Homo sapiens: one gene and its partners. The protein of the gene in region 3 interacts with the protein of the main gene of each other region in a pairwise test. Each region holds a gene or a part of one and is shown on either strand. Other genes may lie near its edges. The genes, in order: GNE, TFAP2D and SSC4D.

Region 1 (3,411 bases), on a different chromosome or scaffold from region 3:
CTTCCAGAGTCACCTTTCCCCACTCCTATTTTTGTAGATGCTATTCTTTCTGATGTCTTCTTACTAGGGGTCATTTTAGCTCAAACCCTGTAAGTTACAGTCACAATTTTCTGTGCCAAAGCAGCTACAATAATAGAGAGGAAGCCTTCTTAGAACTCTGCTTACTAATGTATTAATACCACTGAGACCTTCAGGCCTTGCCTGGGATATCACTTCATCCTGAAGTTTGCATTAATAATCCTTCCAGGCCGGGCACAGTGGCTCACGCCTGTAATCCCAGCACTTTGGGAGGCCGAGGCGGGCGGATCACGAGGTCAGGAGATCGAGACCGCCCTGGCTAACATGGTGAAACATGGTGAAACCCCGTCTCTACTAAAAATACAAAAAATTAGCTGGGTGTGGTGGCGGGTCCCAGCTACTCGGGAGGCTGAGGCAGGAGAATGGCATGAACCAGGGAGGCGGAGCTGGCAGTGAACTGAGACCGCACCACTGCACTCCAGCCTGGGTGACAGAGCAAGACTCCATCTCAAAAATAATAATAATAAATAATAATAATAATAATAATAATAATAATAATCCTTCCAGCTGGGCGCAGTGGCTCACGCCTGTAATCCCAACATTTTGGGAGGCCGAGATGGGCGGATCACCTGAGGTCAGGAGTTCAAGACCAGCCTGGCCAACATGGTGAAACCCCATCTCTACTAAAATACAAAAATTAGCCGGGCGTGGTGGCATGTGCCTGTAGTCCCAGCTACTCGGGAGGCTGAGGCAGGAGAATTGCTTGAACCCGGGAGGCGGAGGTTGCAGTGAGCCGAGATCATGCCACTGCACTCCACCCTGGGTGACAGAGCGAGACTCCGTCTACACACACACACACACACACACACACATCCTTCCTCCTCTAACCCCAAACTAAGATCACAGAAGGTGATCCAGTCAGAGAACAGAGGGAAATCTTACCAGGAAGGGCTTAAGTACACTTTTTTTTAAAACAGCTTTATTGTTTTTAAAGCCTACAATTTGATAAGCCTTGACATATGTATACCTGTGAAAGCATCACCACAATCAAGACACTGGACATATCTATCACTCCCCCATCTCAGATATCCCCCCTAATCCTGGATACCATTTGTTGAAAGATGTTATTACTCTAGCTGAACTTACAAGAGACTTTAGACCAGGGATCTAAATTACAGTGGCCTTAGTGACCTTGTCCTTATCTTCTTAGGACAGCTGAGAAGCCACTGGGACTTAGAGCCTTTAAAAGGAGATTAACTGTCCCAAAAGGATCTTTGCTACTGACCAGCAGACACTTCTTCCTTCAGTAGCCTTTCATACTGTGTTGAGTAACACCCTAGGGTGTCCATTAAAGTTTTGAGTTTTACCTAGAGCCCAGAGCCATGAATCAGGATTCTGTCTACATGATTCGTGTTTTCATTGGTGTCAAAATACAAAAGCCAAAGTTCTGGCTATGAATTGTTAACTTGGAAGAAATACTAACTGCCACCACTTATTAAGTGCCTACTGTGTGCCAGGCTCTGAACTAGGTGCTTCATATACATTATCCTAAATTATCTCAACATATGAGGTAGGTGTTTTAATTTTTATTTTATAGAACTTGGTGTGTTTGACTGTTAAGCTATGGGGCTAGAGAGAGGGTTTGATCCCAGGTCCCTCTGTGCTTTTGCTGCTGAGCCACACAACCTCTCATTTCAAAAACACTTTCAAAATGCTAACATATTCTAATTCACTCTAGGCCACCAAAAACTTTAATACTAATATCTGATTTGTAAATGACTTAATGTATCCTTGACCCTATCAGCTGAATTTAATGAAATATTCCTCTCTGCTGTGAAATTTTACCAGTATAGTATTTGGTCTAGTGACAGGTGTTCTATTTTTTTGAGACGGGTCTCACTCTGTCACCCAGGCTGGAGTGCAGTGGCTCAATGCAACCTCTGCCCCCCAAGTTCAAGTGATTCTCCTGCCTCAGCCTCTTGAGTAGCTGGGATTACAGGCACATGCACCACGCCCGGCTGATTTTTTTTTGTATTTTTAGTAGACAGGGTTTCACCATGTTGGCCAGGCTGGTCTTGAACTCCTGACCTCAGGTGATCCGCCCGCCTCTGCCTCCCAAAGTGCTGGGATTACAGGTGTAAGCCATCACACCTGGCCCTAGTGACAGGTTTTTATGGGTACTTTTAGATGATCTAAGAAATCATGTGCATATATCTTTCAGATTTCTATTTTGGGAAAATGAAGGTTTCTACAACATATTGTTTCAGTGTTCAAATAAACTGAAGGACTCAACATTACATTTGAACTATATCCTTCCTAGTGGGTTAGTGTGAAAAAGAGTTTGGCTGATTCCTAAAACTCTGCCAGCCCTGCAGTAATCTCCAGGGCCTGGTTATTGTTCAGACATTCCATGGTGATTCCTGGGAAGGAAGCTTGGCTGCTCAGTTTCTGAGTCTGGGGTGAGATAATGTTCTGGGAAGGGACATCTGTTCTTTGGTGTAATCTCTCATGGTGAAATCTGCTCTGTACATCAGACAATTGCATTGCTACCAAGTTTCATACCAAATATTTGAAAGGATGGTATTGAATCTAAAACCAAATATTAGTTTTTATTAAACTCATGGGAAGGCTAATATATTCCAACGTAAATTATTACATATGGTTAAGTAATTGCATGTTAATTTATTTTAATGTAAATATTTTTGTTACTGTTCTGAGCCAAATTCTAAAGAAAAAATAAATACATTTCCTTGTTGAAATCCTGTTGTATTTTGTTTTGTTCGTAACTCATTAGCCAAAAGCATTTTCCTTCCCAGAAGAGATTTAATTGTTGCACTGCTTACGTTTTGAAGGTTATATAACTTCCTTAAGGCCTCTAATATCATTGCTTTCTTAACCAAAAAAAGTCTATTAATAGAAAGCATGGCTGGGCATGGTGCCTCATGCCTGTAATCCCAGCACTTTGGGAGGCTGAGGCAGAAAGATTGCTTGAACCCTAGAGTTCGAGACCAGCCTGGGCAACATGCCAAAACCCCATCTCTACAAAACAATACAAAAAAAATTAGCCAGGCATGGTGCAGTCTCAGCTACTCAGGAGGCTGAGGTGGGAGGATCACCTGAGCCCGGGAAGTGGAGGCTGCAGTAAGTTAGTTATGATCATGCCATTGCACTCTAGCCTGGGCGACACAGTGAGACCCTGTCTCAAAAACAACAAAAACAAAACATTGCTATATATAACATTGAAAATTTGGCATAAAAAAGCAAAGTAGCCCCCAAGAAAGAGGTTTGAAACTAAGTGTTAAGCATTTACTGAGTCCCTAGACCCACTCCCTCTTTTTATGAGGCCCTATGTGGGTCTCATACAGGCATTAGAAACAATCCCAAATTACTATT
Region 2 (3,657 bases), on a different chromosome or scaffold from region 3:
TCTGTCTGCTCATAGCTGCACATTTGCAGACCATTAAATGTCAAGCAAGAATTGAATCCACTCATTTCAATTAACTTATCTTACAGAAGAGTAAATAGGAATAAACACCTGAAAATTATAATACAGCTTTATAATTTTTTATTTTTGTTACTTATATGCATCCTATCTTCTTATTGGACTATGTGAAATAAAAATCAGAGACTCCAGTCATAGCAAACATACGTAATATAACCAGTAATCACTATAACTAGATAAACTAGGGAATGTGTGGAAATAATACCCTTTTTGTGCAACATATGAATGGACCCAACATGTGTTCTGAGAAGTTTCTAATTTTACACCAATGGTAAAGCATGAGGTATTTTCATCAATTAAAATGGTAAAAGTTAATATTAAGTAGCCTATATGGATATTCATTACATCCTGGTCAGTTCACCTTTATTCATAAGACTTGGACAACATTATAAAAAATATATATGAAATCTAAAATTTATTGAATGAGAGATCCAATTGCTAATCTACATTGTCAGATTGGCCTACATATTTCTTTTTTACCTCCATGGATTACAGATTCAGTTGTCTTTAAGTATATTGCCAAGTATACAATTGTATAAAGGGCCTATTAATTAAGTGTCATTAGTCTTCTCATGCCACCTTATTTCCAGTGTTTTGTTGATTAAATATTTTGTGTAATTTAGACATTTATTTAGGCGAAAGAATAGAAACTGAAACATTTTTTGAATTCTAAAAATGAATCAGACAAAACGTGTTTATTTGGTTAATAGAAAACATATTTAAACCTTTTGATTGAATTTAGAACTAAATATGTCTAACATTTGATCTGCATTAAGGTAAAGCAGAATAGTTAACAACTTTTAGTGTTACCATACTGTTAATCATCTAAGGGTGAAACATAGAATTTGGATTTCAGACATCAGCTAAAAACTTACGTCCTTAAGGACAATGATGTAAGTGATAAAGTTAGAATGTATGATTCACTGAAGATCATCTTGTGTTACATAATTCATAATATGACATTTTGCCTTGAGATGTAAGATTGTTTCTTTTTGTAGATTTATAAATAAAAAATTAAATAAGAAGGAAAGTAGTCATAAAATCATAATTCTGTAAGTGCCATAATGAGATGATGATGATAATTGCCTACAGGGAATCTACAGGATTGTCATCTGTTTTCAAGTCTAAGCTTGAAAGTGAGTGAGTTAAGCTGTAGAATTAAATATAAAAGGGGGAGATATAATATAATATAATATTACTCCTGGTAGATCCTCCTGTGTGAATTATTTAGCATGAGTTAAATTTTTCCACCTCTTTAGCTTTCTCTAATTTCTTCGTCAATTTTATTATAACTTGCTGTATTATTCATACAGGAACAAAGTTGATTTGTCAACTTAAAAGTTTATTCCATTATCCAATTAATTCTGATATTATGCCACAATAACTAATGTTTCAATCTTTATTTTAATGTTTTAAAATTTATTTTAATCTGATAGAAAAACTAAAAGACTGCTAAAAACAAAAGTCTAAAAACAACACCAATCTTTCTTTGTAAGAATGGATCGTAATGATGACCTACCATACAGTAATTTGGAAATGATAGCATGAGGCTAAATTTAAAATTTTAGTTAGAAATTTCCATAAACAAAGACAACAAATCTATATTAAATAACACAAAGCACAAAAGATTATGATATACTCCTCAAAATGGCACCAAACACTTAGATTAAGTTGCATTCATTGATTAAAATATGGGCAATACACCTGAAAACAGGTATATTTCATAAAGCAACTGAGTCTCACAACAGAAAATGTGAGGAGTTCAGAAGAAACTGTCTGAATGAAAGTAGAAACACACAGTTGTTAAAAGCATGTATTCAGATGCTGTATCTCAGAGATCCAACTGGCCCTTTAGGAAGGGGATGTGAAGTATCTTATTTCACTGAAGCAGATAAGGACTTTGTTTTTCCTATCTCTGACTCCTTTTTACTTTCACCTGTGTTCTGCAAACATGAATAAGGCAATTTCTGTGAAATGACACAATATTTGAACACTGGCATTAAACCAGACCCTCATTGTTCATTTAAAATATCATAAGTGATCTTTGATGGAATTCAATAAATTTTAGATACCTGATTAAGAAGTCCCCACTGATTTTTAACTCAGTGATCAATTATTTGTACTTCAAGATATTTTGTCACTTTTTGGTAGTCATTTGTTGATGACACAAATGCCTTGCAGCAGAATAATGGCCGGGTTCATATTCACTTGAAATAATTTGACACTTCTATACCTGTCTTTGTTTACATTGATAATCAAAGTCAGGGCTACATTATTACATTTTTGCGACTGCCCATTGTAAAAACAGACAAAAAACCTAATTACTGTCATATTATCCCTTGATTTATGGAGTCACCTCACTTTAGATGATGGATGTTTTTAAGCAATTCTTTGGCAATCCTTTACTTTTCAGAGACTGGACTAATTTAGTGTTTTGTTGTTAAAATACAAAAACAAAAACAATATCTCTTTGTATAGTGTATTCTGCTTCTTTAGAATTATATCATTTGGAGTGTACATCACAAAGTCTTTACTGTTACATTGTAACACTGTAATTAAACTGAAACCAATGACCAAAAACCATAACCATTTAAAGCAAAGAAATGCAGCAGAAAAGTTACCTTGAGGGTAATTTTTGCAAGAAATTGGCTTACATGGAACATAATATAACCATTTTTTGTGAGGCTAGTGAACTAAATTACTGGTGATTATCTGCTTCAAATATTAGCATATAAAGTTAGCTCATAAGAATATGAACTCTAATGCAATATTGGGAAAAAAGGATTTTCCAAAGTCTGTTTGAATAATGGCTCTGAAGTAAGACTGTAACTTTAATTAAATTTGTTTACAGATATTATGTCTTAAAAAATCACATTTCAATTAAAAAGATCATAGTGATCATTTCATATGGGGTTCCCCTTATCCTGAGGTTAATTTATGAATAGTCATCTTAAAAATAAACATTGGTCTTATCAGTGCTCATGGATTGTTATTTGTTTGAAATGTTGTATGATTATCCTATAGCCGTTGAGAGCAAAGTCACCATTATGAAACTCAACTGTATGCTATGAATGGAACTTTTGAGGTTGCTTTATGAAATGTTATCTAGACTTCTTTTAAAAGAGAGAACAAGCCTTTGGTTAAATATCATGGGATGAAATTAAAGCTCAATTTGAAAATTTCAATTTTAAATTTGATTCTTTTATTTTAGACAAATCTGTAAAGAATTCCAAGACCTCTTGAGCCAAGATAGATCACCACTGGGATCCTCCAGACCCACTCCAATTCTAGACCTTGACATCCAGAGACATTTAACACATTTCAGGTAAGACTGGTTTTCCAGTTTGCTCAAATTCTTTACTAACCCAGATGCTTGTATTCCTATCACAGTTCTATTTAGAGATACCACTTATATGTTTATATGGTGACTGTCCTAGTCCTTTCAGATGGGCTATAACAAAATACCTTAGACTGGGTAATTTATAAACAACAGAAATATATTTTTTACAGTTTGGAGGCCTGGGAAGTCTGAGATTAAGGTGCCGGCAGAGTTAATTAGACAAAGGCTTGCTCTTTGCTTCA
Region 3 (3,657 bases):
CATGGAAAGGTAACTCCAGGTGTTGCCACGGCAATGGTAAACTGACATGGCATACGAGTGGGCGTATCTCATGGAGAGGCACTCCCACCCCATCCCTGTTTTAGCTAGTCCTCAATTTGGCCCGGTATCTGAGCTCCACCTCCTGAGTCGAGTGAGTCCTCCCTCCTGCCCCATTCCCCACTCAAGAGATTAGTTGTTTTTTTGTTTTTTGTTTTTTCACTTTAAGAGGGGCTGTAGGAGGGCAGAAGTCTGTCTCAGTGAGCCCTGACAGAGCCCCTGCTAACCCTGGGCATGGCCCTTGCCCTGCTAGCCCTGTTTTCTCTGTAAGAGGGGGATAATGGGCTGGGCGCGGTGGCTCACGCCTATAATCCCAGCACTTTGGGAGGCCGAGATGGGCGGATCGCCTGAGGTCGGGTGTTTGAGACCAGCCTAGCCAGCATGGTGAAACCCCATCTCTACTAAAAAAAATACAAAAATTAGCCAGGCGTGCTGGCAGGCGCCTGTAATCCCAGCTACTCAGGAAGCTGAGGCAGGGGAATCGCTTGAACCTGGGAGGCGGAGGTTGCAGTGAGCGGAGATCGCACCATTGCACTCCAGCCTGGGTAACAAGAGCGAAACTCCATCTCAAAAAAAAGAAAAGAGGAGGATAATGAGAACTCAGGCCTGTGTATGGTCCTCCCTGATGGGCAAGGCCTTCTGTACTCCATGTCTGTTGGACACAGAGGACTTCTGATGAGAACATGGGACATTAGAGAGAAATGAAAGCGTGTCTGTTGACAGCCCTGTATAAACTGAAGTGTACACCTCACAGCACAAGTGAATTACAACCACTATCAAAGTGGGGACAGGCCTCCTTGGAACCCCGCTGCGGCTGGGCCACCAGCCCTGGAAGTAACATCTATTCTCTCCTCCAGGCAGACCCTCCTATCCTCCCCTGACAGCCCATGGCTGACCAGAGACCAGAATCTCAGCCTCTGACCCTGCCCCCTTCTCTCCTGCCCTAGGCCTGGGTCCCCCAACGCTCACAGCACTGCCATCCTCAGCCACAAGAGAGGACTGGGCTTGGCAGACAGATCCGTCCGGTAAAGAGCTCAGCCCTCCAGGCGGGAATGGTAGGGGTATGGTGGGTGCGGCTGGGAACTGGGAAGAATGTTCTGGATTCACAGGCGGGGGCCCTGGCTAACAGGCCAGGGCTTTGGCCAGATGGTGCAGAGGTGGGTGAGACAATTATGAGCAGACGGAGCAAGGATGATGAAACTCAGAGCTCTGAAAACTTCAGCGGGGTGGGAGGAGGCAGTAAGAGATTTCTTCAAAGCACAGAAGTAAAATTTGGGATGTGGGCGGTGGCTCACTCCTATAATCCCAGCACTTTGGGAAACAGGCAGGAGGATCTGTTGAGGTCAGTTAAAGACCATCCTGGGCAACGTAGCTAGACCCTGTCTCTAAATATAAATAAATAAATAAATATCTTATATATATTATATATATCTTATATATAATATATATCATATATATTATACACATATTTTATATATTTATATATATCATATATATTATACATATTTTATATATATATATATATATATTATACATACATATATTTAAATTGCCAGGCATAGTGGCTCATGCCTGTAATCCCAGCACTTTGGGAGGCTGAGGCAGGTGGATCACTTGATGTTGGGAGTTCAAGACCAGCCTGGCCAACATGGTGAAATCCCATCCCTACTAAAAATACAAAAATTAAAAATAAATAAATAAAAATACAAAAATTAGCCGGGCGCCTGTAATCCCAGCTACTTGGAAGGCTGAGGCAGGAGAATTGCTTAAGCCTGGCAGGCAGAGGTTGCAAAGAGCTGAGATTGCGCCACTGCACCACAGTCTGGGCGAGACAGAGCGAAACTCTGTATCAAAAAAAAAAAAAAAAAATTAGCTGGGCATGGTGGGTCGCACCAGTCCTAGCACTTTGGAATACCGAGGCAGGAGGATCACTTGAGGCCAGGAGTTCTAGGCTGCAGTGAGCTATGATCGCACCACTGCACTCCAGCCTGGGCGACAGAGCAAGACCCTGTCTCGAAATTAAAAAAACTTTTTTTTCAATGGGATGATGCTGAGATTGGGAATTGAGAGACCTTATGAGGGGGTCGATTGAGATGAAGGTTGAGTCAAGGTTAGCAGTGCAATTGGAATTAGGATAGGAACTATCCCTGGGCCTGAAGTTAGGATAATACCTAGAATTAGCTTTCGGTTCATTCAACCAAGTTTCCCGGAGATCCCAACCCGCGCCAGACAACGTGGTGACTCTGGGGTTGCAGCTGAGTGGGGGTACGGGTGTGGTAGGGTTGGGGGTCTTGGTAGGCGTCCCCGTGCCCTGCTGCAGGACAGAAGGCCTCCTCGTCCCCTTCGAACGCCCTAGATGCCCTGTCTCCACAGCTACAGGAGTTGGCCCCCAGCCTTCCCGGGAGACAGCACTGCTCACCACCGCCGCCTGGGCCGCGGGGAAGAAAAGTAAGTGGCGGTGCCTGGGTCTGCGGGGGATGGGGAAGGGTAGGGCTGGGGCTCTGCCGGGAGCCGGCAGCCCCAGCCCAGCCCCTCTGGCCGCGGGCCTGTGCGCCCCGCAGGTGGACGGCTGCGACTGGTGGGCGGCCCGGGTCCGTGCCGCGGCCGCGTGGAGGTGTTGCACGCCGGGGGCTGGGGCACCGTGTGCGACGATGACTGGGACTTTGCGGACGCGCGCGTGGCCTGCCGCGAAGCGGGCTGCGGGCCTGCGCTGGGCGCTACGGGACTGGGCCACTTCGGCTACGGCCGCGGCCCCGTGCTGCTGGACAACGTGGGCTGCGCCGGCACCGAGGCTCGCCTGAGCGACTGCTTCCACCTGGGCTGGGGCCAGCACAACTGCGGCCACCACGAGGACGCGGGAGCGCTCTGCGCAGGTGAGGCTGACAGCGAAGGTGAGGCTGACAGCGGGGCCGCGCACTGCGGCGTGGGAGGGGCGGGGCGGCGCCACGCGCGAGGCCTCTCTTGCGGCACTGCCGCCCGGGGAGCATGCGCACTCCGCAGAGGGGCGCCGCCCCGCCGTGCGCCCGCTCTGCGGCTGCGCGGCGGGGCGAGGCCGGAACGGAGAGCCTTCTGCAGTGGAAAATGGGGCGGGGCCTGGTGAGCGCCGCGTGGTGCAGCTGTGAGGGGCGGTGTCCGAAGGTCAGGGCTAAGGCCGATCCCAGTTCGAGAAAGGCATCAAGTCCGTAAAGGGTGGGGCCGTTTGCTCCCGGCTAAATCTAGACCCCGCAAAACTCTATTAAGCAGAGAGTGGATCACCCTTACCAGAGCTAGCGTGTGACCTTTGGGCGGAGTCAGTGGAAAGGGGTGTTTGCAGTTTGGCAGAACATTGTGAAATTCATTGATTGCTGTGGGAATTGATATCTTCACCCTCATTTGGTGCCCCAGGGCTAGTAGGCCCTACTTCCCATAGTTTTGGCCACAGAGGGTTCTGTTTTGGGGCCAAGGTTTGGAGAGGCACAACACCTATTTCTTTTTTTTTTTCTTTTGAGACAGAGTCTTGCTCTGTCACTCAGACTGGGCTGCAGTGGCACGATCATAGTTCACTGCAGCCTTAAACTCCTGGGCTCAAGCTATCCTACTCCGCTCAACCTCCAGAGTAGC

Evidence for each region.
Region 1: the proteins of SSC4D (region 3) and GNE interact in a two-hybrid assay, tested with the Homo sapiens proteins (one large-scale study listed by BioGRID).
Region 2: the proteins of SSC4D (region 3) and TFAP2D interact in a two-hybrid assay, tested with the Homo sapiens proteins (one large-scale study listed by BioGRID).

Annotation. Positions count from the first base shown.
Region 1 is NC_000009.12:36,213,807-36,217,217, reverse strand, and holds the end of GNE (bifunctional UDP-N-acetylglucosamine 2-epimerase/N-acetylmannosamine kinase), read left to right. Parts: 3' UTR 1-2,777; downstream 2,778-3,411. UniProt on the Homo sapiens protein: Bifunctional enzyme that possesses both UDP-N-acetylglucosamine 2-epimerase and N-acetylmannosamine kinase activities, and serves as the initiator of the biosynthetic pathway leading to the production of N-acetylneuraminic acid (NeuAc), a critical precursor in the synthesis of sialic acids.
Region 2 is NC_000006.12:50,747,925-50,751,581, forward strand, and holds part of TFAP2D (transcription factor AP-2-delta), read left to right. Parts: intron 1-3,286; coding exon 3,287-3,400; intron 3,401-3,657.
Region 3 is NC_000007.14:76,392,678-76,396,334, reverse strand, and holds part of SSC4D (scavenger receptor cysteine-rich domain-containing group B protein precursor), read left to right. Parts: intron 1-1,004; coding exon 1,005-1,082; intron 1,083-2,430; coding exon 2,431-2,505; intron 2,506-2,618; coding exon 2,619-2,930; intron 2,931-3,657.